2 separate regions of the Homo sapiens genome follow, and region 2 is linked to region 1. Evidence: fine-mapped expression QTL. A gene starts in region 1. The other region holds a variant in brackets. All regions are shown on one strand. Distances are from middle to middle.

Evidence for each region. PIP is the estimated chance that this variant, and not a neighbour inherited with it, causes the effect.
Region 2: its variant is fine-mapped to the expression of CDON in subcutaneous fat (GTEx, PIP 0.96). The same link has a PIP of 0.9 or more in sun-exposed skin.

What each region holds. Positions count from the first base shown.
Region 1 is chr11:126,054,603-126,069,904 of GRCh38, forward strand. It overlaps CDON (cell adhesion associated, oncogene regulated), which reads right to left and starts at 8,264. Exons shown (of 20, transcript NM_001378964.1): 1 at 7,977-8,264. It also overlaps the pseudogene NAP1L1P1. RefSeq lists an enhancer at 2,558-5,821 and silencers at 8,022-8,691, 8,762-8,851.
Region 2 is chr11:125,968,089-125,983,390 of GRCh38, forward strand. It overlaps CDON (cell adhesion associated, oncogene regulated), which reads right to left. Exons shown (of 20, transcript NM_001378964.1): 17 at 12,961-13,241; 18 at 10,216-10,295. Among named protein-coding and RNA genes, the nearest start is that of VSIG10L2, 30 kb to the left of the region's middle. The variant A/C (reference allele first, on the strand shown) is at 7,666.

The DNA of each region.
Region 1 (15,302 bases):
TCTACTCAGTGTGCTCCACCCAGCTCATCAGTATTATCTGGAAACTTGTTAGAAAGGAAGAATATTGGGCCCCACCCCAGACCTACTGAATCAGAATATGCAGTTGAACACACTCGCTCACCCAGAAATTCAAATGCACGTTAATGCCATCCAGGATATCTGAGTGTTTAGTACTTGTTCAGCAGAGTGCAAAGAAAGGGGTGGGTGGGCCAATGGTACATAGGGGAAAATCACATTGTCCTTAAGGAATAAAGGGGAGACTGACACGTATGCAATTATGATACGTATCAGTGCCAGGAGAGATGCGTTTCCAGCCTGCGAGAAAGCATGGTATATTCATGGAAGGCAAAGCAGCCGGGATGGCAGAAGCTTCCAGTAGGCATATAACCCTGTACATCCAATTAAAGACCTGGGCTTCAACAAGTGAGCAATTCAGGGACTTTAAAGGATTTTAATGAAAGCAGTCACGTGATCACATATTTACATTTCAGAAAGATCATTACTCAGGCAAAATGTAAGAAAAATCAATGATCTGGAAGGGGGCAAACCAAAACTGAAGACAAGGGGATGAGTTAGTAGCAGTTTAAGCAGGAGTTGCAAAGGCATTTTTTTCATCTCACATGCTGAATCTCCTCTGTCCCTCTCCCAAAGTTTGAGGAGGAGGATGGAGGGGTAAGGTAATGGTAACAGACAAGAGATAAAGAAGGCCCACTTCTAAGCTACAGGGAGGATGGAATTGGTATGGATGGGCATACATAAATATAAAACAGTAAAAATTCAATATACTTTTCTGTTTTATAAAATGGAGAAAATATTATTTTGGTGGTTCAGGATCCCACAGTTCCTTCCATCATTTTAAATATCAGTGATTAACATAAAGTACTATATTTACAGATACAAGATGTGTACATGGTTAAATATCTATGGATCCCAGAAAAGATCTTGAATATGGTTTTGATACTTGGACACGTCTCTGATACCGGCCTTTCTCCTCCTATATGAGTTATTTATCTCTCTTGTAACTCAAGTTTAGAAAAGTTGCAGTGGAGGAGGGACAAGAGGGACATTTATTAATGTTTACATATAATTTGTTGTAGGAATGAATAAATAACTGGGCCAACAAATGGCTTCAGATGTGTACCTATATAAAAAGGTAGTACATGCTATACTTTTAAGTATTATCATTTCTGATACCAATACACTTAGAATATTGAAAAAGTCCCTATTTAAGTAAGGAAGAAAGAATACCCGACATTTACTTGTTAGTGATAAACTAAGGATTACATTTAAAGTGAAAAGAGCCAGCAAGTCGAGGCAATCTCCAACTTTAAACTGGAGCTGGTTTAAAAAATGTATTTATCCAATGGCTGTTGGTAACTTTTAACATATTTCCTACCTCCAAAATCATGTACGTGGTGGGTATGTAGCCTAGGCATACCATAAAAGCCTATTTCATGGAACCTCAGTCCTACAAATGCCTTAGAGGTTATTTGGTTCAATGTTGCACCCAAGAAAGAGATTCTTCCCACAGCAGCCTTTGCAAATGCCATTACAACACTTCCAGGAATCAGGAGTCCATGCCCCTTCCAAACAGCACTGCTTCACATGAGGCAGCTCTATTTGTTGGATAGTTCTTCTTTCTTCTGAAACATAATCTGCATCTTTGAGGACGCCTATAGATCAAAAGATGAATCATGTATCACTATTTCAACGCTCCCAACCCCCAATGAAATCCTGACCACGGATGGTCTGATTTAGGAAGAAAAGGGGACAATTTGCCCTTCTCCAGTCCAGAGGAACCCATCCTGCATATGGCTGTATGTGAAGAATGACCTTGTGTCAAGAGCTATGAATAGTCAGATTTAATAAAATTATAAATGTTGAAAAATACAATGTCTCCTGAGAGAAAAATGGCTAGTGTTCAAGCAGAACACCCACAAAATCCTTAATCAACATTTCCAATAACAGAAATACAAGCTATTAACCACAGCCAAAGTCCCTTCCAAAATTTAAAACAAACAAACAAAAACCCTTCTGATTTCATCTACTGAATCATCTTGTCTGTCTGTGAAATAAATTTTATTTAGCATATTAGAGAATTTCAACAATACAAACAAATTCTGAATGTATAGGCATAGCCTGACCACAATTGTTAATAGGTTAGTGGCCAAAACTCTTCTTCCTGATATAAGTGCTTGGTCCTGTTCCTCAAAATCTTCCTGCAGTATAACATCCTAGCTCCACTTTCTTCCTTTTATGGTGGACTTTTCTTTTTTCTTCAGAAAAGCATTGTACTGTTTCATTTTAAACTCAAAGAATATTATACTAATGCTGGACTGGTGGTTACTTCTGTACAACGCTAAGTGTTGATTACGGCATTTAGTCCTAAGCATGAAGGATATAAGCTACCTTAGATGGTCCTTTTCCCCTATTTTGAGGCTCCCTCCTAAAAACACACACATAAAAATGAATACAGTTTTCAAAGTATTTGGTTTATGGAATTGTAACTGAAGGTAATTATACCTTCAAGTAGTGAATAAACCCAGTTCTGTGAATAAAAATGAGGTCATGGTTGTTTTCCTAAGATAGCCATTGGGATCTGATTTTCTAGTAATGTAGGAAGAAGTGTTATTTTCTTTTTTCCCCCAAAGACTGTGTATCCAATGTGCCAATAAAATGAATTATTATGAATTTCAAACCGCACAAAAGACTCTACAACAATTTACAAAGCATGAATTAGTACTGTATACATAAATAAATGTTATTCAATAACATGAATAAATCTCACAGGCTTATGTCTATTACAATGCTCATTATTGAGCAGTGCAAGAACTCCAACATAAGACTACATACTGTAGGAGTCCATGTTCATACAGTTCACGAACAGGCAAAACTCATCTATTCCAACTCTTCAGAATAGCTGCTGCCTGCTAGCAAGAGGGAGGGCTGCCTGGGATGGGCACCAGGGAGCTTTCTAAGGCCAAGGAAATGTTCTATATCTCCATCTGGGTACTGGTTACCACAGACATGTGCATATGTAACAATTCATCTAGCTGTTCACTTAGTATACATTAGCTGTACACTTGTGATATTACTATGTTACACCTCAACTGGAAAAAAATTACACACAATGTCCAAGTGCCTTCTAAGTTTCAGCTGCAAATTTAAGAAAGCTGTATTGTTTCACGTGCCCGCACTATTACTAGCTTCTGAGAAATACATGTACACTTACATATACAGGAGGAGTTAATAAAAATAACAGCAGCTAACATTTACAGAGGTTTTACTATATGCCAAGTGCTTGACTTTCATTATCTCATTTAATCCCACAACAATGGTAAGACATAATTTCTGTTATTATACCCATTTTACAGACAAAGACCCCCAAGGCTTAAGTCAAGATCATTGCCCAGGCTCACATAAATAACAAGAAGTGAGCTGGTCTACAACAAGAATAGCTGAAAAGCAAGCTCTATGTCAGCGTCCAAATTCTCTGTTTGTATTAGGGTAACATAAAAATAAAATTGGCCTCACAGTTCCAAGTAACAAAACATAAACAAAATATGTAAGCTAAGTTCAGTAATATAACCCATATATTTTTTCTCGAGTAAGATGAAAGGCACATCAGTGGCTCTTAAGCACTGGAGTCCCTACTCACATTCCAACAGATATACAGCAGAACAAAATGTTCTTTGGGCTAGTTTTTTTATTCTCTCTGGCCATCAAAATATACCGCACAGCAAAGCGACTAAACAGCTGTGAATGCGGACAGGCACAAACTGCAGTGTTTACTCCAATTCATTCAAGGGTCCTTTCAATCTGGCCATAGTAGTAGGAGAAATGCCCAGGATTAAGGTGGAAAAAAGCTAAACATATCTTCAAAAAGGCTTCTTTATTTTCTGAACACACTGTATTGTGAGGAGAACTTGGTAGAGGGCTACATGGGAGTAGGACGGAAAAGACTGTGCACTATTTACAACACGACTTTACTTGGAAACAAAATATATCAAATGAACCATCAAATATGCTACTGCATTCTGCATTAGCTGAAAACCAGGAGCATTGGAATTCACATTCTTGGTAGATGAAAACCAATTAACTACACCATCCACCATTCAGAACTGGTCTTCCTTGAAAAGTACACAAGAAACAAACTGGGCTAATATTCTGAAAAAAAGTTTGTGCCCAAACATTATTTGAGGCAGGGGAAAAGGGACTTGGGAAGGAAGACACACTAATGTTTCTCAAAAATTTTGCTCCAAAGATTTTACAGAATGTTTTTGGCAGATAGATTTTCATTTACTTGGCGCTGCTAGCAAGTCTGCAAAGTAATGCCTCAGAAACACTAGAAATGATACAATTCTTAAAAAGACAACAGAAAAGACATAATCTAAATTAGAATTCTATAATAATAATAATGTAACAGAAACAATCAAATTCTATCAATAGTAAACTAAAATATGCCTATTAAAACAAGCATTTCATCACTGCAAAACCATTTGTTTCACATGAAGTCTGATTTTGCTCTCAGTTTGAAAGTTATTAAAACGATACATCAGCCTTTACAGGCAAGACCAAACAGTAAGATAATTTTACATATTTATCAAAAGATCATTCAAAGAAAACTTACCAAGTCTGCAACGTGTATATGCTTGTGCTTCGGAGGGAAAGCAGAGAAGCCACTTTCTGTACTTACACTGGAGTTCACTTCAGTGCTGAAAACACATCACTGTAGTCCTGCTTGTAATAAAGTCCGGACTAGCAATCTGCCTTTGGGTTGGGCTTTTCTCTTACAAGATAAGCTGTTAAGTCATGCCTTGATTTTAGATCTGCCAACATATGGAGTCTTCTAATGTAGCCTTCCCTCCACCCCCTCAACCCCCCCTGCCCGCATCCCCCCAATCCCCGCTCTGCTCCACTCCCTCTGCACACACACACATACACACATACAAAAAAGGCACTGCAGGGCAGAAATTCCTCAGGTGCTCGCTAATGGAATTCCCAGGGTCTTGGAGCCGCTTCGGGGATCAAGAGATCTCATAGCCCCCGCTGGGGTAAGGAGCAGCGAGTCTGTTCCATTTAATCAAATACAGAATGAATTTTCAGCTCTATTCACTAGCTTGTCTCCAGGGCTCTCAAAAGGCACCAGGCAGCTAGAATCACACACATGTGGCTCTTTTAGGCAAGTATAATTAGCTTGATTTTAAAAAGCCACATTAATAATATCACCTCAGGACCATTATTCAGGAGACAGATGACAATGATACTGTATGTTTTAAGCCTGACAATGGGGGAAAGAGCACAAGCAATGAGGGAAAACTTGAAGGATTAAAAAAAAAAAAACCAAGAAACCAGTTTTTCATTTAATTGTAATCCAATATTTTTCAAGTGACATTAAGAATATTCCATACACCATCCCTTCTTTTTAACAAAAAAGAATCAAGTAAAGCCCTCCCCTGTGCTGTTGAAAGTGAGTTAGTGCCAAATACACAACAAAAACTTATCACATGGAATGATTACATACAATATAAAAATTTAAGTAAAAATAAAACATTCTCAAATTCAAGTTCACGAAATTTCTTGAAAAAATTCCCCATTAAAAAATACTGTAAAAAAGCAAGTCCTTCAACTCAAAATATTTGGCAACCATACTCCAAATTCTGTTTCTAATCTAATTAGTTTGTATTAAGTTCATTTACTTAAAGGGGGGCTACCATGTACGCAGCTCATCTACAGCTCCACTGTATTGTCTTACCCATACTTCTACATCATGCCATAGCTGATCACAAGGCGCTGGCTCATATCATTACACGTTAAAGCAACACATTTTTCAACTCATTATTTATTTTCTAACGCTTCCCTGATTTTTACTACGATAATATTTAATTCCTGAAATCATTTCCCTAGTATTTAACTTCGAAACAATCACCAATTTTTAGTCTAAACGTTCGTGGAAAAAAAAAAATTCTACAGAAGGAAAATTTTACTTCAACTTACATTTCGACAAAACCATACATGAAATTGTCTACAAAGTCATGAAGGCAGATGGGCGAAGTGGGAAAATAAGAAGCAAGCCCAAGAAATAGTCAACAAATTTTTACCTGCTCTCTTTAGAACAAAGCCCTAGGACATTAGTTCCTATTCCTACCTACTGCCTTCAGCTGTATATACCCTGACGATCTGGAGGAGAAAGTCCTATCTTAAAGTGAACTTAATTCTTTTCCTGCAAAGTCAAACCACCTGCAAAGAAAGCAAGGCGTAAGCTAGATTTAGAAGCCAAGCTACACAAGCTAGATCAGTATCCAAGTCCTAAGGGTTCTTTGTACTTGAAGGCTTGAGAGTCAGAGCTGTTTAAGTACTTTGCACAGAAGAGGAGGCTGATGAGAACCATGGCAATCAATCAAAGCATCCCAAGTGAGTTATTACACAAACAACAGCACAGTACCTCTAGTAACTGATTCTCCTGGCTGACTAAACTATTCAAACAAAGACAGATTTCCCAAACACTGGGAAGTTTTTGCATGAAAGTTAAACAGTATACATTTGTGTGTTTCTTAATAGAAATATAAATGTTTCTGTTCTACACACTGCCAAACACACACCCAGGGCACGTCTTTACAAAATGAAACAGGTTTTCTCCATCCTTCTCATATAACTTCAAGTATGAGGCAGTTCATTCCAACATGTGCATAACAGAGACTGCAGTATTTGGTGCTTCTCGGGTTCCAAAGAATGCTTTCTAGTTAAGCACTAATTTAAAATTTCCAGAAAATTTTTTGAAGGTTTTCTTTCATCTTATCTTAAAAGTTGAACTATCCCCAAATTTTCAGCTAAAAATAGACTGAGGGTGGGGGAGAACTACAAAATGTCATAGAATGTTTAGAATTATGCTGACAATAAACTCATTTCATTTTCTAACACCCTCCCCACCTTCCTCTCCTTGGAGACACTGTCCACTAGGTATGCCAAGTGTCAGTTGGGAATTTGAGGGTTATGTTATCAGCGCCGAAAGGAATCAGAATTCACTGACTTGGCGTCTTTCATCTTTACTGGCATAGGCCTGAAAATAAATCTCATGTGAGCTTTTAGTCCAACCTCCTGTTTTTCAAGGTGTCTGGTTTGGGACACAAAGGCTGACTTTCTGTTGATGAGGTTCTCTAAATTCTGGATTCCCACTGGAAAGCAGTCTGCCCTTAAAGCACCTGCCACCCTCTGTCGTCCTGATGAGGAAGGGCAGGCATTCTGGAAACAGCTCCTTTTGGAGAGCCTTCCACCTGATTTGGTGGGGTTAGGGAGAACAATGAAGGGAAGGGCAAGAGAGTCTATCTATCCCCCTCAGTGATTTATTGCTGAAATTCCTAGATGTGGAGAGAAAGCAACAAAGGTCTGGAAGCTGCCGACTGAAATAAATAGCGAGCTGTAATGTATTTAGCAAATGATAATGCAATCCACAGAAAGCTTTACAGAGGAGAAGGAAAAATACACTCCCTGGGGCTGGGAAGTCAGTGAGTCTTGTGAAGGCAGAGAAAGATACATTGTGCAGGAAATTTCTCTTGCTTCTCCCTACACATAAATCACTGTCTCTCGCGGGCGCTCTGCAGGGATGGAGATTGAGAGAGGCCAGGGACCCGGCTCCCTTGGGAAAACGCGCGGGCGCCCTAGCTCCCCGCTCTGCGGCATCTCACCTGCCCCCGAGGACCATCGTCAAGAAGAGGTTTCGTCGTGTCACTGACACCTCACCCCGCCTCCTCCCGCGAGGTGCCTCCGAGCCCCCGAGGACGCGGAACGCCGGGGCTCCCCGCCGGGCAAGCATCAGCATCCAGACCCCGCACGCAGCCCTGCACCCCCACGCCCTCCAGGGAACGCCGGCCCGCCCGTCCCCGGGACCTCCCGTCCCCTAAGCCAAGGCCCCCCAAGCCCAGTGCCCGCGCGCCACCCCTCCCTCCGACCCTGCGGCGGGACCCCCACCCCCGCACCTCTCCGCGGGGCTGGCTAAGCCTCCAGACCTCCTGCGCTGCAGCCGGCTCGGAAAGCCACCCCCAGGTCATCCCCCCGCGCGCGCGCGGCGGCGGCTACGGTGGCGGCGGCTGCGATCCGAACGGGCCCCTCCATGCACCGCGCAGGGCAGAGGAGGGAGCGGCGCCTCGCACGCCGGGGCTGGGGCGCTGGGCAGGGCGGGCGGGCGTGGGGTCCCGGGTCTCCTCGCACCTAGCCGCGCGAGCCGGGCTCCCGGGCTCAGGGGAGGGGAGCTGAGGGGCGGAGTCACCGGGGCGCGCCCCCGCGGCTGCGCTCCTCCCCGCCGGGGAGCGCGGGCACGTAACTCGGAGGGTGCTGGGCCGGCCCGGAGCACGCGAGCAGCGGGAGGAGGGACCGGGGAATGACTGACGGAGGCGGGCCGTAGAGGCCGCTGTGCCCCGCCGGCCCGCACCCGGCCGGAGTGTGCGCGCGCAGCCTGCCAGATCAGCGGCGGGGGCACGGGCCGTACCAAGTGACGGAGGGGGGCACGCTCTGGGCAGGACCCTCTCCTCGTCATTGACCTGCCTACTCTGCAAGAGAGATACCCCAGGGGAGCATAGAAGAGGCTTTTCTTGGGTGTAGGACAGGTAAGGGTGAGTTGCCTTACCAAGTCACGGAGATTCCCATCATGCCTGCACTCACGCTCCCCTCACCTTTCATTCCCTTGGAGAGACGGCTCTTCTGGCAGGTCTCCAAATGGTCGACTCTGTCCCCCGAGGCCCCGCCCTAGCCTCGTTCGGGCCCCGCCCTAGCCTCGTTCGGGCCCCGCCCTAGCCTCGTTCAGGCCCCGCCCCTCGCCCCGCCCCGCCCCTCGCCTCTACCTAAGTTCTCTGAGCCGCCAACGGGTGCATCCCTTCTCCCGGTTCTTGCCTGGTCTCTCTTAGGGTTCCAGCGGCCCACCGCTTATACCTCCTTCGCCTTTCCACCACTTTCCATGTTTAATTCCTTAGGCAGCTTCATCTGATTCCCCCACCACCACCCACCCGCCCTGCCTGCACATAAACGCAAGCAGGTAGCAAAACTCAGGGGCTAGGAGAGGCGTGGTGTGAGCCTTTGGCCCCAGAGTCTTTCCAACTCGTCCGTTGGACCTGCCCCAAGTTATCTGAACTCAATGAACTTCAGTTGTTCAAACAGAAAAAGGAAAAATAAATTTCTATTCAAAATGTTGCTGTGAAGCGTAAATACGATACTTTGTGAAAAGCACCTGCCACTCAGTGGGCATTCAAGGACTGTAACTTCTTTATAAATTGTTATTATTAGCAGTTAGCTCTTTTTTTTCCCCATCATCATTACTTACTATTAGCTTAACTACAAAAGGATCCCTAATAATAGTTAAGTTTATAAATACTCAGTACTGAACTTCAGGAGAAATATGCCAGTCCTCCCTTACCTTCTTACGTGAATTTTAAAAAGAAATGCTTTGAAAGTGTGGTATTGTTCAAGCAGGTTAGCTTTCTGCATTAGCTAGATTCAGGGTTTTTGTAAAGCCCCTGGAAAGAAAGTCAGTACAGGACGGAAAAAAAAAACACAATTTTTTTTCTTAAGACGGAGTCTCACTCTGTCGCCCAGGCTGGGGTGCTCTTGTTGCCCAGGCTGGAGTGCAATGGTGCGATCTTGGCTCACTGCAACCTCCGCCTCCCGAGTGCAAGCGATTCTCCTGCCTCAGCCTCCCAAGTAGCTGGGATTACAGCACGTGCCACCACACCCGGCTAATTTTTGTATTTTCAGTAGAAACGGGGTTTTGCCATGTTGGCCAGGTTGGTCTTGAACTCCTGACCTCAGATGATTCTCCCGCCTTGGCCTCCCAAAGTGCTGGGATTACAGGCGTGAGCCACCACACCCAGCCAGAAAAAAACTCTTAACTCTAGTTTGTCCTCCACTGTTCTATTGTTCACTTTTGGAGACCAAGAATCTATATGTTATTAACAAGCTATGGTAAACGATTTTTCATTCGGCAAGTAAGTCTTTCTATAGAGGATTTAACTGAAATGAGAGTTTTGTGTGGATGTTAATAGAAGTCTTGCAAATTTATTGTGGCTACAGAGAATTCCAGGTTCTTCTCCTGGGACATAATGCACTTTGTGCACCTCCAGATCTCACAGTGCCATTTGAATTCACTATGCCTACTGTTACTCATAGTCAGACTAAGAAAAAAATCACAATGTTTGTTGATATTAATTACTTCCTCTCCCCCTTTTTTTGTAAAGCAGAGAAATCATTTCAGGTGTAAAACAGTTTTTCATTAATGAATCATTCATCCATTTGTTCAACATTAAGAAACAATGTGCAGTCCCAAGCTTCAAAGAGCTCACAGTCTAACTGTGATACAGACACACACGTGGGTAAGTACAAGGAGACATCTTCAGTGCAATGAACAGGGAGCTGTGTGAACACAAGGTCAGTATAGTATTGAGTATAGTATTAAGAGGTGATAGTATTAAGAGGTGATAGTATTAAGAGGTGATAGTATTAAGAGGTGATAGTATTAAGAGGTGATAGTATTAAGAGGTGATAGTATTAAGAGGTGATAGTATTAAGAGGTGATAGTATTAAGAGGTGATAGTATTAAGAGGTGATAGTATTAAGAGGTGATAGTATTAAGAGGTGATAGTATTAAGAGGTGATAGTATTAAGAGGTGGAGACTTTAGAAGCTGACTAAGTCATGAGGACCACCCTCATGAGCAAGATTCATGACCTTATAAAAGGGCTTCAAGGAGCTAGCTAGCCCCTTCTGTCCCTTCTGCCGTGGGAGGACACAGAGAGGTCATCATCTGTAAGGAGTAGGCACTTACCAGACCCTGAATCTGCAGGCACCTTGATCTTGGATTTCCCAACCTCCATAACTATGAGAAATAAATTTCTGTTGCTTAAAGAGTACCCAATCTAAGGCATTTTGTTATAGCAGCAGAAACAGACTAAGACACTATGGGGCCTCCAACCACAGATGTCCACTATGTAGAGAACTCCAAGTGGAAATACGGATTTAAACGTCATCAGCATAAAGTAGTGTTTATACCATTAAAGTGGAAGCGATCTCTCAGGAATAATATGGAACCAGAAAGTTGTAGCCAAGGATGGATCTCTAAAACTCCAATAACTAAAGCCCCCAATTATCTTGATGAATTTGGAGCAAAGGCTGTTTACTGAACTCAAGGTATGGGACTTGAAAAGGATGCTTGAAGAAGGTGGTGAAGGTTTGGAATAGTCATTAGGAAAAATGAGAGTTGAAAAATGAAAGTAGAAAATCACTCAGAGAATTGATAAGTGATGCTGAGGGCCTGGCTGAGGTTGGAGACCATTAATGTATGGTGATGGAGCTTGCATGATTATGTGGTTTTCTCCATCAAAATTTAATCAGTCAGGTAGAAGGGGAAAAGCATAACACCAACCCAATTTTGAAGTTTTTCTGGAAGTTGTACAAGAAGGAAAATAACACACGGTATTGGTAAGAAAATTTTTAAAACAGCAATCATAGAATCCAGGCAGTGGAAAAGGTGTAAGAGGTTTGAGAAGAATAATAGACTGGAAAAATTACAAATTAAAGAAAAGGAGATATGTATGACATTAAAGAGCTGTTGTTACAGGATTGAGTAAGAAAGAACCAAGAAGTCTTTGGTAATAACCAGAGTTTACCATTTCAGAAGTAGAACAGTTCCAAGTAATGATTAGATCTAGTATGTTTACCGGTGCTGGTGGACGATGTGGATGATTTATGCCGTCAGGGGACATATTGAAGGAACTGAGAGGCTGATAAATGAAATACCATGAGCCAAGTACTCAAGTCCTCAGGGATGAGGTGGGAAGGTTGTTAGATACTAAGTGACATTTAATACATTCCAGGCCTGAAGTGGGTGCTTTTATAATACTCAATACATGTTAAAATTGGTTCTCCAAGGCCGGGCGCGGTGGCTCACACCTGTAATCCCAGCACTTTGAGAGGCCGAGGCGGGCAGATCATGAGGTCAGGAGATCAAGACCATCCTGGCTGACATGGTGAAACCCCGTCTGTACTAAAAATACAAACAATCAGCCAGGCGTGATGGTGGGTGCCTACAGTCCCAGCTACTCGGGAGGCTGAGGCAGGAGAATGGCATGAACCCAGGAGGCGGAGCTTGCAGTGAGCCGAGATCCCATCACTGCACTCCAGCCTGGGCGACAGAGCAAGACGCCATCTCAAAAACAAAAACAAAAATGGTTCTCCAAGAATAACATAATAGAGTAACTAGAGTCCATAAACTTGTATCACATTCTGACTGTACCTTATTTGATCTTGGTCAAATAACTTAAACTCTTGGAGTCTTGATTTCATCATTTGTAAAGTTGTAAATGACTTCATCATTTGTAAAGAGTAATAATACCTCATATAGAGTTGTTAATAGGACCTACTTCAGTGGTTTGCTAGGAGGATTAATTGAGATGATACACACAAAGCACTTAATACAGTGATTGGCAAGTAGCAAACACTGGATAAAAGTGTTTTTAACATAAATAAAAGCTATTTATAATAATAATAGTTAATGCTTATATAGTTCCTTCTGTGCACCAAGTATTATTTTAAGCATTAGTCCCAAATTACAAATGAGAAAACTGAGACATGAAGTGCCTTGACCATAGTCACACGGCTAGTCAGTGTCAGAGCTCATATTAAAACTCAGGTAATCTGTGTCTAGAGGCTGGACTCTTAATTATTACACATTAATGTCTCCCTACAATAATGGGAAGTATTTTTATTAATATCACTTCAAATAAATTGATCAGTTAAACTGATCTGTTCTTTTTTAGCACCATTTGCTCGCAGTGCCGCCTCCTGCTCCTCCTGCCGCCACTGCCGCCCTGAGTCACTGCCTGCGCAGCTCAGGCCTCCTGGCTTCCCATACTAGCTGCCGATATTTGGAGTTCTTATAACATGGCAGACACTGACAATCTGAACTTGATCGAGATTTGGATGATGTTGAAGAAGTACATGAAGAAGAAACTGGTGAAGAAACAAAAATCAAAGCACATCAGCTAACTGTTCAGATAATGCAAAGTCCTCAGATTCTTGCAGTCCTTCAAGAAAGACTTGATGTTCTGGTAGAAACACCAACAGGATACACTGAAAGCCTGCCTAGGGTAGTTAAAAGACGAGTGAATGCTCTCAAAAACCTGCAAGTTAAATTAAATGTGCACAGATAGAAACCAAATTCTATGAGGAAGTTCACGATCTTGAAAGGAATATGCTGTTCTCTATCAGCCTCTATTTGATAAGCGATTTGAGATTATTAATGAAATTTATGAACCCACAGAAGAACAATGTGAATGGTAACCAGATAAAGAAGATGAGATTTCAGAGGAGTTGAAAGAAAAGGCCAAGATCGAAGATGAGAAAAAGGATGAAGAAAAAGAAGACCCCAAAGAAATTCCTGAATTTTGGTTAACTGTTTCTAAGAATGTTGACTTGTTCAGTGATATGGTTCAACAACATGATGAACCTATTCTGAAACACTTGAAAGATACTAAAGTGAAGCTCTCAGATGCTGACCAGCCTATGAATTTTGTCTTAGAATTTCACTTTGAACCCAATGAATATTTTACAAATGAAATGCTGTCAAAGACATACAGGATGAGGTCAGAACCAGATGATTCTGATCCCTTTTCTTTTGATGGACCAGAAATTATGGGTTGCACAGGGTGCCAGATAGATTGGAAAAAAGGAAAGAATGTCACTTTGAAAACCATTAAGAAGAAGCAGAAACACAAGGGAAGTGGGACAGTTCATACTGTGACTAACACAGTTTCCAATGACTCTTTAATTTGTTTGCCCCTCCTGAAGTTCCTGAGAGTGGAGATCTGGATGATGATGCTGAAATCCTTGCACAGACTTCAAAATAGGTCACTTTTTACGTGAGCGTATAATCCCAAGAGCAGTGTCATACTTTACTGGAGAAGCTATTGAAGTTGATGATGATGTTTATGATGAAGAAGGTGAAGAAGCGGATGAGGTAATGTTTACCAAATGAGCAAATAATTCTCTGTGTTTAACACATTGAGAAGCAAATTGAATGACTTATGTATTCCTTTGCTATAATCATTCTGCAATTTGGGTTAAAAACATTTTGGAGGCCGGGCGCGGTGGCTCACGCCTGTAATCCCAGCACTTTGGGAGGCCGAGGCGGGTGGATCATGAGGTCAGGAGATCGAGACCATCCTGGCTAACAAGGTGAAACCCCGTCTCTACTAAAAATACAAAAAATTAGCCGGGCGCGGTGGCGGGCGCCTGTAGTCCCAGCTACTCGGGAGGCTGAGGCAGGAGAATGGCGTGAACCCGGGAAGCGGAGCTTGCAGTGAGCCGAGATTGCGCCACTGCAGTCCGCGGTGCGGCCTGGGCGACAGAGCGAGACTCCGTCTCAAAAAAAAAAAAAAAAAACATTTTGGAAAATATGATTTTAGAATTCTACAGCCAAACAGTGTATGTGTAAAGTTTCAATAAATAAACTGAAAAAAAGAAAAAACTTTGTTGAGCACCTTTTAAGTATAAAGCACAAAATTAAAGACATACAAGGAAATACCTGTATTAAAAACATCTTGGCTGGGTGTGGTAGCTCACAACTGTAATCCCGGCACTTTGAGAGGCCAAGGCAGATGGATTGCTTGAGCCCAGGAGTTCAAAACCAGCCAGTACAACATGGTGAAACTCTGTCTCTACAAAAATTATAAAAGATTAGCCGGTTGTAATGGCATGCACCTGTAGTACCAGCTAGTCAGGAAGCTGAGGTAGGAGGATCGCTTGAGCCCAGGACACGGAGGTTACAGTGAGCCAAGATCGCGCCTCTATACTCCAGTCTGGATGACAGAGTGAGACCCTATCTCAAAAAAGAAAAAGAAAGACATCTTATGTGGCCTCATCAGACTCTCTTAGCCTCACCTGTCTCCAACACCCTGCAGTGACTCACTCTGTGTCCCTTGCACCATTTCTAGGCACTGCAGAGCTTGAAATCTGGCTTCCCCAGGATCTGCTGAGAGGGCTAAGCAACACAACTCAAACATATAGTGTGAGGCCAGGCGTCTTGGCTCACGCCTGTAATCCCAATGCTGTGGAAGGCCAAGGTAGGTGGATTGCTTGAGCCCAGGAGTTCAAGACCAGCCTGGGCAATATTGAGAAACCCCATCTCTATTTAAAAAAAAAAAAGAAAGAAAGAAAGTGCAGTGTGTTATCTCCCCTATGTGAGGAGGGCATGGGAGCAGGGCAACAGATAAACTCCTCCCATCCTCTATCCATGGACTGCTCCAAGCATGGCTTGTCCAC
Region 2 (15,302 bases), 87 kb before region 1:
AATTAAGATACAGGAAAAAAAATGCATATACACATATTTGCCAGAATTTGAAAACCTAGGACAGTTCCCTACAAAATATTAGAAATTAATAACCTGTTTATACAGATTGAACTTGAATGAACTCATAATGTTGATATAACAAAACAATGATGACTCGCCAGACAATGAGATGCCCTCAAAGCCTTCTGCTTCCTTCTGTTTAATTTCTTTTTTTCTGCTCTTGTCTTTAATTTAAAGCCAAGTTACAGAATGAGATTTTTTAATGAAGTCTAAAGGCAGACTAATAGTTTGTAAAGTACTTCTGTCAGAGTGACAGTGAAGTTTTACACATGGGGCAGGACTGGAGGAGCGGGCGAGACAGAGGCGCAAGGGCCAACCACAAGTGTGGTTATCAGCGTGTCGACACAGGTTTTATGGGGAGCTAACAGGCGTATGAAATACACACACTTCTTAAAGAAATTCCAGATATTTAGCAAGAGAGAAGTACAATTTCCTATTACCTACTCTTTAGCATCTGTTTTTCAGATAAGTAAAACAGGAAATCATAGCAGTGTTTACTTTATTCTGAACTATGATCCTCAGTCACTAGAGTGGTGTTGACGGTAACATACTTGGGAGTTAGATCTGTAAAGCAACTGTGACCTGAATTTCAGCATCAACCACATTGATTTAAAATTTTCTAGTACACTGAATCTTAACTCATAATCATCAGTAATTAACCAATTAGCTAACCAAATGTAAATGATTCAGTTAAATTACTTTTAGTTCAATTCCAGATGTCTACATGTGTCAGCATAAAAATGGCTTTAACTTAGGGGTTACATGTTGAGATACAGGCATAAAGAACATCATCTGCTAAAAAGGAACATAGTCTGTTCTGAATATAACCAGACATGATATATGAAAACTATTATTATTATTATCATTGCGATGAAGTTTTGCTCTCATTGCCCAGGCTGGAGTGCAATGGCGTGATCTCAGCTCACTGCAACCTCCGCCTCCCAGGTTCAAGTGATTCTCCTGCCTCAGCCTCCCGAGTAGCTGGGATTACAGGCATGCGCCACCATGCCCAGCTAATTTTGTATTTTTAGTAGAGACAGGGTTTCTCCATGTTGGTCAGGCTGGTCTTGAACTCCCGACCTCAGGTGATCCGCCTGCCTTAGTCTCCCAAAGTGCTGGGATTACAGGCGTGAGCCACCACGCCTGGACCGTGAAAACAAATATTTTACTAATAATGCTTTAGTTAAAATTTCCAAAGCAATTAGATGATCACAAAAATCATATCTGTACATATGTAAACTTAAGAGACAAATCTAAGGTAGTAAATAAGAAAACAGGACAAATGTCTGCAAACATATGACATTCAATAAAATGCTCTCACAATGCACATTTTACAGTTTATATAATGCAAATAGTTTGTAACTTCACTATCTTAGGCTTCTCAAATGGTCTTTCAAATGCAGTTATTACTGGCTTAAGGTGGAATAAAAGTTTTTACTGAGTTTTCTCTAGCTCAATGAAACTACTTTGTTTAATCTTAAGTTTAAAAACATTGAGTAAATGGAGCTCTATGCATCTTGCTACATACAAAAATCTAAGCTGTTTTGTAAAACCTCAGGTGGTCTGGGACCTGTTAGTTTACTAAGATACCTTTTAGTAACACAGGAAAGGCCTGTCTGACCAATCTGAAAGATAGGAAAATGACTATTGTGGTATCACAAAAAATAATAAAATATTCTTTAAGCAACACTCTGAATAGCAGACTAGGAAATAGAAGATTGGAAGAGTAGTGTAGGATTGTGCTTGGAAGAATATTCTTGTAAAACTATACAGCACCTCTGAAATATTTTCTAGAATGTATTCGAAGTATTCCACTTCTGATTACACAGTTGAATATTTGTTAAGCATGATTATGTACAGAATTACTCTGATTAGATGACTATATAATTTTTGCATTAAGTTTCCTCTTTTGATTATGCCTAGAGGGAAAGAACTATCCGTGAATTTCTTGGATGTGTGATACTTGTTCTCATGCATATATTCTTGAGACTTCGGAAATAGTTACATCTTGGTGGTAGTTTATGTTTTTTTTTTTTTTTTTTTTTGAGACAGAGTCTTGCTCTGTCGCCAGGCTGGAGTGCAGTGGCGCGATCTCGACTCACCGCAACCTCTGCCTCCCGGATTCAAGCAATTCTCCTGCCTCAGGCTCCAGAGTAGCTGAGATTACAGGCGCGCGCCACCACGCCTGGCTGATTTTTGTTTTTTTAGTAGAGATGGGGTTTCACCATGTTGGTCAGGCTGGTCTCGAACTTCTGACCTCGTGATCTGCCTGCTTCAGTCTCCCAAAGTGCTGGGATTACAGACGTGAGCCACCGCACCCGGCCAGTAGTTTATGTTAAAATTCCACTCACCTCTGCTGTTTCCACTAGTCACTGTGTCATTTTGCTGACCCAGCTCTTATTTTCGGGAGCTTATCAGTTACTACCTAAAGAACCCTGATGGCACCGCTCCAGGGCCATGGCCGTCTTCCCTTCTCGATATCTGCTCTGTTGGATGCTGCGATGACCGCAGCATTAGAGTGGGAGTTTCCTTTTGGGAATTAATCTATCAGCAGCTGTCACATAAAACATGACAGTAAATGTTGAGTGACAACAAATGACTGAGTGTATTCCTGAACATGGCAAGTTGACAGACACACACGAGCTTATAAAGAAAGACAAAAAGCTGGACTCCCTGACAACAGGCGCTAGGTCTCCATCTTAGAAGTACGAGACAGACTTGGGGAGATATATAACTTCCCCAAAAGGAAAGCACTGATCAATTTTTAAAATTCAACACAGCACTCTGAATTTCTTAGGGAAATAGGGAGATTACCATAGATGGAAGAGAAGCTGAATGCCTGTTTTCTGCTGGAAGAAAAAGCTCAGGTGAACTGGACAACTTGTTGTTTTAATACTTAGCAAACCAACTGGGTAGATCAAACCTTAGGCCTGAAAGAACTGCTATGATAATTAACGTTCTCCGGTGGCTCACGCCTGTAATCCCAGTACTTTGGGGGGCCAAGGCGGGCGGATCACGAGGTCAGGAGACCAAGACCATCCTGGCTAACACAGTGAAACCCCATCTCTACTAAAAACATAAAAAATTAGCTGGGTGTGGTGGCGGGCACTTGTAGTCCCAGCAACTCAGGAGGCTGAGGCAGGAGAATGGCGTGAACCTGGGAGGTGGAGCTTGCAGTGAGCCGAGATCGCACCACTGCACTCCAGCCTGGGCGACACAGCGAGACTCTGTCTCTAAATAAATAAATAAATAAATAAATAAATAATAATAATTAATGTTCTCATATTCATCTCTACATGTTGTTGTCATCGGAGGACATCTGACATCCACGGAGGGTTTCAAGTTGGTGAAAGAGCATTCCCAAATCCAACACACAGACTTTTAAGGTTGTCATTATACAAAACTCTGAAGTCATTTGTAGTATCTCTGTTCTCTAAAGCACCGTTCCCAGTAGTTTTACTACTTCTCTTGACTATCAGCCATGTAATTTGTACTTTTTTTCCCAGATGAATTATATAATTTTTCCAAGCTGATTTTCGCTGGGAGACTTCCTGTCCATCTCCAGTCTCTCTACGACCCTTCGAGTTAATTTCTCATTCCTTCCTGATGGGGTCTCTCGGTCCGTTCATCTGTGAATTTCATCAGTGTCCTCTCTACTCTCTCTTACAAATTATCAAGGCTGATGCTAAAAAAGACCAGATTTAATGCCAATCCCTTTCCATTAAACTAGCCAAGCAACTGATAAGCCACATTTAATTACATATCCAGAACTGCATTACTGCCTTTTGAATTCAGGAGAAGAGAAGAGAAGGGTAGAAAGCTTTCGATGTTTTTTGATTAAAATCCATTTAACTCTTGAAATGCCCAAATGGCACAAGGATTTCTTGATTAGGTCTCTGGTGTAAGGAACTGGCTCTCTGCAAAGCTGCCTTAAATATGCTTCTTTCTAGGCATTCATAGTGAGCTTTACATATTACTCTTAAAAACTGCAAAGGGGTCAGGCGCGGTAGCTCGCGCCTGTAATCTCAGAACATTGGGAGGCCGAGGCGGGCAGATCACATGAGGCCAGGAGTGCGAGACCAGCCTAGCCAACATGGCAAAACTCCGTCTCTACTAAAAATACAAAAAAATTAGCCAGCCATGGTGCCACACGCCTGTAATTCCAGCTACTAAGGAGGCTGAGGCATGAGAATCGCTTGAACCCAGGAAGCGGCGTTGCAGTGAGCCAAGACTACACCACTGCACTCCAGCCTGGGTACTGGAGTGAGACTCTGTCTCAAAAAAAACAAAAGAAAATCAAAAGAAACTAAAAAGGATTCAAGGTCATGGAACCCAGTGAGGCAAGCGGTCATTTACAGCATGTCACAAGAGCCCCAGAATCAACTACAACTTCCCCACAGATCTATACAGTGCACCCTCCCCTCACCTGCTCTCAACTTTTCACATCATACTCTCATTTACATAATAGAGGCAACGTTTTCCCTCCAGATGGTTATTACTAAAATAGATGGGTGATAAAAGGGGTCAAGGGTTGGCAATGTTTCTTAAAAGCTCACTCCAAGAAATATGCTTAAGTTTACAACTGAGAAGGCAGAGAAAAAAGAACCTGGAGTGGCAGGGCACAGAGCAGGTAAGAGTCCGTACGGAAAAGGCCCCATGCAAGACTTCTCCAGTTCTCAGTATCTGTGGAATAAAGAAGGCGAATTGCAGAGGCACCACCAGATCTCAGAGGACAACTCTCCAGAAGTATACTGTGGGGCAGCTCCTCTTCATCTCCTGCAGTGTTCTCTGCCTCAGTGACTGCGCCCAGACACCTAGACATCATCTTCAACTGCTTCCTCCACTGGCCTCTTCAACCAATTACTTGGTCTTTTTTTTTTTTTTTTTTTTTTTTAAATCCCTCAGACTCATTCAGACTCATCTCCTTCTAAATCCTAATTCTCTCAAAATTCTTCTCTTTCTCTCCCTACAACTATGCTAGTCTACTGTTTCTCATCTGGACTACTGCAACTGCCATCTAACTGGTCTCCAGGTATCCTCTCCTGCCCCATCCAATTTAGTCTCCAAACTGCATCCAGAGTGTTCTTTAAAAACCCAAATTCAGCTGGGCATGGTGGCTCATGCCTGTAATCCCAGCACTTTGGGAGGCCAAGACGGGTGGATCATGAGGTTAGGAGTTCAAGATCAGCCTGACTGACATGGTGAAACCCCGTCTCTACTAAAAATGCAAAAAATTAGCCGGGCGTGGTGGCGGGCACCTGTAATCCCAGCTACTTGGGAGGCTGAGGCAGAGAATTGCTTGAACCCGGGAGGTGGAGGTTGCAGTGAGCCAAGATCGTGCCACTGCACTCCAGCCTGGGCAACAGAGTGAGACTCCATCTCAGAAAACAAAAACAAAAACAAAAACGAATTCCTGCTTAAAACCATCCACAGATGTGCCATGGCTCTGTGTGATCTGATTTCACTCGCCTTTTAATTCTGACTCCTCCAGTTACTAGGTTTCTGCTATGTTGGCCTTCTTTAAGTTCTTTGAGGATTCAGGCATTCTGTTTTAGAGATTGTGTATAAATGGTCCCCTTTGCCTGGAAAGCTCTAAACTTATTTCCTTCCCTTAGACCTAATTTTATAAATCTTCAGAGCTCAGCAAAATGCCACTTGCTTACAGAGGGCTTTCCTCTCTCCCACATTCTTTACTTTTCCTTTAAAGCATCCAGATTTAATTACATATTCATTTTTATTATTTATGTCATTTTTTTTTTCTTTTGAGACAGAGTTTCGCTCTTGTTGCCCAGCCTGGAGTGCAGTGGCGTGATCTTGGCTCATTGCAACCTCTGCCTCCCGGGTTCAAGTGATTCTTCTGCTTCATCCTCCGGTGTAGCTGGGATTACAGACACTTGCCACCATGCCCAGCTAATTTTTGTATTTTTAGTAGAGATGGGGTTTCACCACATTGGCCAGGTTGGTCTCAAACTCCTGACCTCAGGTGATCCGCCCGCCATAGCCTCCCAAAGTGCTGGGATTACAGGCGTGAGCCACTGCACCCCGCCGATTTATGTCATTTTCTTAAAAGATATGTCTCCCCTATTAAACTCTAAGCTCCACGCAGGCAGGAGCAATGCCTGTTATGCTCACTGCCATATCCCCAGTACCTAGTTTGGTGCTTGGCTCACTAGAGACCTGCAGCAAACATTTGTAGGTAGGTAGGTAGGTAGGTAGGTAGGAAGGAAGGAAGGAAGGAAGGAAGGGAGGGAGGGAGGGAGGGAGGGAGGGAGGGAGGGAGGGAATTCTTTTTTTCTTTTTTACTCTCCTTATTTTATCATTCTCCTTTTCCCATCTCTGTTATTCTCTGAAGATGTATTAAGGCAGTAAGAAAAAATAACAAAAGATATGATGTCTTATAAAAAGAATGTCTAATCACTTTAAATACATAATAAAAGCAAATAAATGCATCAAATAATTAAATATATAAAAATAATCAATCTGCCAAGGATATTGTCTCCTTTGGTGTCTCATCTGTTTTTAAGTTCTATTACTTGGATAGAACTTAAAATGGTCCTAAATCTGTATCACAGTTCCATTCTACCCCCTGAAGCCAAGACCAGCATTTTCATCTTTCTCCTTAAGATATCAACTCATACTTCAACTCTAAAACCAAATTTATCACCTTTTTATGATGTATCATTTTATTAAGTTTCTTATTACTATGACTACCACCCAGATCATCCATGTTTGAAACTTCTTACACATCTGGAATCTTCTGTTTTTCTAGATCCCTGTCAGTCAATGGCCAAGTCCTGAAGACTCCATGTCTGCAGTCTCACTCATCCCTTCCTCTTCATCCCCATTCCCCATGTCTCACTGATCCCCTCCCTCCCTTCCCTCCTGTGCACTGCCATCTTTCATCCAGCCTGAGCATATCTCTGAACAGATCATTCCTGTTCTCAATAAGCTTTGCAACAATTATGATGCTGCTACCCCAGTGTTTCTCAACATTTAACGCATATCCCCTTTTGATTAATATAAAAATTGCATACCCTTGTATACATAGACATTACAGACATAGAGATTTTTTTCTATTCTTTAAATATAAAATTATAAAACTCAACGTGCTTCTTCAAACTCTACTCACTATATCCCTACCTCTGTCTGAGAATCACTATTGTTAGACTATGGACTCTCTGAAGGCAGGGCCTAGGCCAGTACCCAGTACATGACAGGCACTCAATAAAAGGCCTTGTTTATTAAATAAACTTGCTTATTTAATAAATAATATTTAATAGGACTATTATTAAGTAATAGGACTTGTTTATTAAATAAACTACTAAACCTTCACATTCAGGGTTATCCACTATATAAACTCAGTCCAGTTGTCCAATTTCAATATCCTACTATTCTCTAGTTGCACTTCACAGCCGATCAAATTATTCCAGCGGTTCTCAAAGCATGGTCCCAGGACCATGGGCATCAGTACCATCTGCGAACTCATTAGAAATGCAAATTCTCAGGCCCCACCCTAGACCTGCTGAATGGGAAACTCTGGTCTAAGAATAGGAGTGGGAGTAGAGCCTAGTAATGTGCGTTTTTATTAAGTGTTTCAAGTGATGC[A/C]CGCTAAAGTTTGAGAACCACTGAAGTCGCCTATTCATTCTTATGTAAACATTATCCTTTCTACGTCCATGACTGTTCTTACATTCCTTCTACGGGGAAACACCTCAGAACCTAGTCCAGAGCCTGGGTAGTGCTCAGTAAATGTTTGTTTTGTTTTGTTTGACTGAACAGCCAAAAATCATATGAGGCCCACTTGATAGCCCTCATATAACTTAACTGAAATCACGCTTCTTTTTATGTTTACACTATTTCAGCTGATATTCAGAAATGCAAACTCATTCATAGTAACAATGTCGATATTCTAAAAGCATAAATTGACTATAATTTTCTATATTTTGAGAGTAAACCACGTATCATCTACCTTTCGGCATTCACAGCTTTTTACAAATTTTGTCATTTGTAAGATCTTAAGAGGAGATACCTGTTCTCAATTCCAAAGTGAAAAGACTTAAAATCTTTAAATTTAATAATTCAAATTTTCTAGAGCTGAAGGTAGGTACTTATTGATACTTATCTGTCCAATTATTGAGTGTCAAAATCATACAGTTGCTCCTGGGAGCCAGGTGAGACACTGGCTAACCTTGAAGGCAATGCAGGCAAGTAAAGACTTGCACTAAACAGGCAGATTCTCATGAGGAAGAAAATTGAAACCAGGAAGAAAAAGAATCTGGTGTTCCAAGCTGAAGAGAATTCACCTAAATTCCCAGATAACAGTAAAACCCACACACATGAAATGTAGTAAGTCATTAACTTGAAAATTAATAGAAATACAATTGTTCATTGTCTTAAAGGAAAAAAAAACTGTATAATAAAAACTTGAAAATACTAAAATACTACATACACACACATGCACACACACACACAAACACACACACACACACACACTACACATACAAATAGCCACAAAGCCAAGGTCATTTAAATGGCAGAGGTCATATAAGTCCTTCTAAGGAAATGGGATGCATTCTTGATATTAAGATGATACTTCATCAAAAAGACATGATTGGCAGGAAATTGCCAGAGACTACCGTCAGATTATGTTGGGAGCAATCTTACATTACCTAGGACAATTTTCCCCTTTTTAGTTAAGGAAATAGCTTCAGAAACATTACGTTACTTTCGCAAGATCACAGGTTTAAGCTATGTCACAGCCCAGGTCTACTTATTCTTAGACCAGAGATCCTGTCGTTATACCATTCTATTGTCCAGGAGAACCAAGATCTGCTGATGACCAAGAACCACAAAAGAAAACACGTTAAAATTTTAAGCAAGACCACTTGTAACTAAATCCGTCTGATTACTCGCCAGGTACATGAACCACCTTTACCAGGTCTTTAGCACGTTGCCTAACAAACTACGGTAAAGTCCATGAAAAGCTCAAGACAAAAATGTGGTTTCAATGTTATGAACATTTGCAAAACCAGGGTCATATAGAATTTAAATACGTAACAAGCAAACCTTAGTACATAAAAGAAGCAGATGGCTCTTTTATAGACACCCTGAAATGGGTTAAGTAAATGATAACAAACAATCTCCAAGAAGCTCTGTTGCTTTTGTTCTGCAACTCTCAAAACACAGGCTGGAACAACGTATTTTTAATTTGATGGTTGGCCTGATCCTTCTTCAAGTTCTGGTTTCAATAACTCCCAGAGACAACTCTTAACCTGTTAATCCATTTTAAATATATAGGTCAAACATCATTTCAATAATAAAATATCTAAACTCCCACCCATACTCCAGTTATTTTATGTACTAACTATGACATAATCTTTTTGGTTGTAGAGTTTTAGGACTGAGAAGGAAGGACTTTTGACACCATGTAATTCAATAACATCATTATGTAAAAGAAAGAACTAAGATTTCTGAAACAACTTTAATACAACAAAAAGCTTGGTAATCCTTGGGATTACCATAGAGAGAGGTCGTAGGAAAGTGTGCCGAGTATCCTATGTGTTAAATGCACATTGCTCTCCATATTTCTATCTTGTTTGAAATATTGTGAGTACATACCACTTTTAAAATTAAAACACAAAATTCAAAGCAAGGGTTTGCTGCTTAATTTTCTTAAGATTTTAAGAATTAAAAAAAAACACTGGATAATCTGGTAGGAAAATTTCAGTAACATTACTGTGAAAAAAATTACTATATACAGAGGGTTCCCCCCTCCCCCCAACACTCAGAAACACTGTCATTCATCCTCATAACATCCCATAACATAGAGTAGAAAATAAAAGGTGAGAAAAGATAAAGTCTTTATAACAGAGAATGACTCTAATTTAAAATTTTCAAAAACATTAAGCCTTATAATAATATTTCAGTGACAAATAGAGCCTTTAAGATGGTTTCTATATAGCTGAAGAAACCGAGGCACAAAAAGACAAAAATTGGAAAGCAGAGGCAAAAAATTAGTAACAGCTTTAAATTTAAGATTGCAAATCCTGAACTTTATATCCTAGGTAAAATTCCAAGAACTTTCTTTGCTGAAGGGAAAAATAAAAGGATGCATATGCCTTATTCACAACAGCTTGTGCAGACACATTATTAACATACCTATTGTTGTTTCGACAATTTCGGCAGTTAACACACTCCAGAGGGTCAATCTGAGGCACGGCCGTGTACATTCCACCACCCTGGACAGGAAGGAGTGTCAGAGAAAAAGAAAAGAAGAAGGAATGCTGAAGGTACTCACAGACCAGTAGCCAAATAATCACAAATACACATGAGCCATGTCAACCATAAATGGGCACACAGTATATTCTAACCAACTCCCAGAGCAACGTCATTGTGAATATCACTGACCCATATTCACAAAGGAGTGAATGAGAGTTCTGCATTAGATTTAACTGTATTCCAAAAACTTCACTGCCATGTTTTCCTACGTATTTCTGTACTAGACAAAGGTAAATAAATGAAGGGAAAAGTTTAGTCACTTCCCTTCAAATCTAGTGGGCTCAAAATACATTATATGTTATAGCCTCCATTCATTTTCCCTTTCTTGGCAGTCAGGGAAGAATTTCATGTGATACCAGTTGGAGAAACAGGGTGTAAAACCTGTGTAGATGATGTCACATGATAAACTCATCTTCATTTTCCTGTAATTATTTCAATTAGGTCTGTTCACTTGACAACGCTAAGTTTTAAAGCATGCTATATTTTTCCAGATGGAGTAGATCTTCAGCCAGCAATGACTTGGAGGGGGTGTGTTAATATTTGGATGTTGCTTTTGGCGGAAACTGCCCAGCAATTAAGAAAAATGCCCAGATTAACACATACCTCATTGTAAAATGTTCACTTGACAGACAGCAAGGTTCTTCAAAAATGAAGTTAAAAATTAAACTAGCCTGATAGTCAGAGGCAGAATTCTGCTTTCAGAAGAAAAACAGCAGAACTGAATTTGATAAAAGGTGGGAGAGGCTGTCACACTGCACCCAAACCCAAAGCAGGCCTTCAAGGTTAGGAAAAGTTCAGGCAATTGTTTTTCCTAGAATACTTTCCATTTCCATTCATTTCATAACAGTAGCCAGAATCTAAGCAAACCAAAAGTCCTGAAAATTTCCTTCAGTGTTTCTGATCCAACCAGCAACAGGAATTATTAAGAACATATCGAGAGAAAGAACTCTCCTATACTATATTCCATCTGAGGGAAAACCTGAAAGGCTCAGAAAATGAAGTTCACAACCTGCAGGGTAACGTTGTGACTTACGGATTCTCTGAATCCCTCAACACGTTGAAGTTAGTGCAATGATTTTTAGGGTCACTAACACTGTTAAAATTTCTCTATTTCCCCCACCCAGAAAAGTAAGAAAACGAATAATTTAGAATCACAGATAACTTCTGACATTGTACACCAAATGGGGCACCTATTATTTAAATAGAAATTCATTGTTCAAAAAACCCAAGGTTCCGTGTTCAAACACTAAAGCGAACATGGGCCTTATGTTTTCTTCTTATGGAAACAGTGTGTGCTATTCAAATGTTAATGCTCTCTCCTTCAGTTTTCTTGGACAATGGTAGTAGTTTGGACTAGGAATGGTGACCAAAAAAGCTTAGAAAGTCTGAATACATGCTGTATCTTTCCACACAAAATAGTGAAATCATGATTCTCTTTTAGTAATGAGATGCATTAAAGCAAATTAATATTTCTTCCACAACATACAAAAGCTAGGTCACATAAAAGCTATTCAATTTCTAGCTTTAAAATATGAGTATATATTAGTTTTGTTCTCCAAATAGATTTTAATAAATCTTTAATAAACTGAAGATGGGGGGAAAAAAAACTCTAAGCTTCTTCAAATTGTAGCACATTGTGGGTCATGGTAAATTTATTTGTAATCAGAACAATGACAAAAACTGAATGCTTAATTCCATCAATTAAACAAATTATCTATTTGATCAAAAGTAATATAGATGTGCATCCAAACAATGTCATAAATCAAACTTTCTAGTGCAGAGAACCCCACGTAAGTCTAAAATATGCTAGTCATTCTACTACCATTTCAAAAATTAAACGCTATCAACTAGTTATCTCTGAAATAAGGTTGTCTTAAGGGTTTATCACTCTTTGTGTGGCTAAAGAATACTAACATTGTAAAATGTAAAAAGCTTACCAGCCACAACAACAAAACATATTGGGCAAAACAAACAAAAGAAGCCCATGAAAGGTCAGAAGTCACAACCCGGTGGCCTGCAGAGATGTTTGGCATGGCCTACGTATGTTTTCAAAAATTTGAATTAGGTGCCAGCATGTAAAAATCTGTCAATTTCACTTGGATTTACAGAGGTTTTGAAAAATCAGAAAATTTGGCAACACTGCGCCCTCAGTCCATGACGACTGTAAGTGTCAAACCGCGGCTGCTTCCTGAAGACACTGTCTGTGCTCTCCAGGTGGCCATCGCCTCCAGTGCTACCATCTCACTCCCACAATTTCCTGATCTGCCTGACTCTTTTCGGCATTTGCATTTTCAAGACCCTGCTCTCGATAAATCAAATTTAAAGTATTTGGTATTTCCATTTCATCTAAAGAACAACTTCCAGTCTGTTCACTGCTGGTATTCCACTTTCAGTGTTAAATAATTTTAAAATGAAACTAAACTGATGAACATAACTATTACCTGGCAATAGAAAACAACTTACAAAGACTACTCTGGATCAAAGGGCTGCCAGTGATCCATGCTGTTTCCATTCGAGGAAACTTGTGAGGTTTCTATACTGAACAAAGCCAAGCATGCTGTCCCTGTTCTAGTACTTGGCACCCTGAGGGACAGAGGGGCTTTTATTTATAGTTAGGTCTCTTACATTCACTAGATGATGAGGATGTTCAAAATCCACGTGTGTCCTGGTTAGAGAGTTGCTGTGCCCGGAGTAAAGCCCTCCATTTAGGCTCCCATTCACAATTCCATTGACTGCATTGGGGACCTTATGGTGAAGGTGGGAATAGCCACTGCTGAGACCGCCATTGGTTAGGAAGCCTCCGTGAACATTTCCATTTATCTGACTTGCTCCTGAGAGAGTGGTGTAGTCCACCATCTGCCCGTTCATATCTGATCCTTGGTAGAGATATCCTGGTGGGTCATATTCTGTTAAAAGAGAACAAAAAAGACACACACGCACACACACACACGCACGCACACATGCACATACGCACACACGCATGCACACATGCACATACGCACACACGCACACACGCACACAGTAAGACACTAAAAAGGACAATCTTCTTGCTGAGAAGGTCTTACAGATAAAACCCCTACGAAACTACAAATAGACTAAAATAAAAACATTTTTAAAATGTTCACTTAAAGCCTACTTGTAAGACATGCTTTAATAAAGTTACTGCTATTATTTTCCATAGAGTGTAGAGATAGCTGTGAACTCTGAGTTAATTATGATTCTGTTAACGGGAAGAAAAATCACCTAGGGAGAAATTACTCAAAAGAGAATGAATATATTGGGCAAGCTGAAACTATCAGAGTACTGGCAATACTAGGAAAAAGTGCTTAAACTCCTATATATTATACTTCTAAGTGCTGAAAAAAACTGCATAAAATGACAACAAAAGACTAGCTTTAGGTGGGGTATTTCAAGTAGCAATAAACAACTCTGTTAAGTAAAAGGATGGAGTTGTATATACAGTCACTGATCATTCATATAGCTCCTTAGTCATTACAGCCAATTTGGAAGGTGTGGAGTACCAAAGGCAAAAAGTGATTCTATTTTCTTTTTTTTTTTTTTTTTTTTTTTTTTTTTTGAGATGGAGTTTCGCTCTTGTTGCCCAGGCTGGAGTGCAATGGCGTGATCTTGGCTCACTGCAACCTCTGCCTCCCGGGTTCAAGCAATTCTCCTGCTTCAACCTCCCAAGTAGCTTGTGCGTGCCACCACATCCGGCTAATTCTTTGTATTTTTAGTAGAGACAGGGTTTCACCGTGCTAGCCAGGTTGGTTTCGATCTCCTGACCTCGTGATCCGCCCACCTCGGCTTCCCAAAGTGCTATGATTACAGGCGTGAGCCACTCCGCCCAGCCTTCTATTTTCTTCTATTAAAAGCATACAAATGACTGCCTCAAAACTGATTTCCAGAGGCACATCTACCAGATATATTTAGAAAAAGTAAAGTATCTCTTAGAAACTAGAGTGTCCAAACTGTACAGGATTTGTTGTTGGAGTCTGGATAAATTCTTCGAAGGTAGGAGAGCTTGCCAAGGCTGGATTAGGTGTCCCTCCTTTCCTTAGCTGCCCACATTACTGTGTGCTCTCGCCCAGGTGTGTAGTCTCAGTACACCTGCTTGTGGTCTCACTAAGCTACACACTTTGAGAGGGCAGAGGTGGTGTTTATTTTATTTACCATTACATCTCCACTGTCCAGAACAGTGCCTGGTATACAGAAGACGATGATTATCTTTTGAATAAATGACTGAATGAACACCACCATGAGAATTTTCCATTTTTAAACATTATCAGGTCACAAAGTAGGATGACTTTAATCTGATTAATATGGCTGGGACGACCAGATTAATGTTCTCTTTTAATGATTCAACACGCACTCACACAATTAAAGGCAATGGCATTAAAACCATTTAGAAAATCAAATGATCACCATCCCTTTCAGATTAATACTTCTCTTTTCATGATTCAACACGCACTCACACAATTAAAGGCGATGGCATTAAAACCACTTAGAAAATCAAATGATCACCATCCATTTCAGCCTGATGCAGCCACCATCTCTCCCCCTATCTCTTGGAAGGCATCATTCAATACAAACAGAGTACTTTCTTCCCCCAGAACTGGTAACTAAAAGGGGAGCATGCGTGAGAACTGGCTAACAGCCACTGGAAGTGCCTGCTGGGGTCCTCCCTCACTTTTCTTTCATTTCCTTATTCTGGAGCCAAAGGGGAAACCAAAAAACTTCCTCCCACCAAAGACTAAACTCTCTGCTTGATTTGATTACCCTATTTTATAATAGCTGAGATAACAGGAAAAGTAGGACAGTGAGGTGAAGAGAACTGAAGGAAGAGAAAAGAGAAAGGGGGTTCTAGGTTACTTCACTGTTATTTCAAAGCAGGGCCATCATCGATGTTCAAGCACACGTATTCCTAGACACACTCCAGGGAGAGGACGCCATGCTGGAGCAGTCTTGAG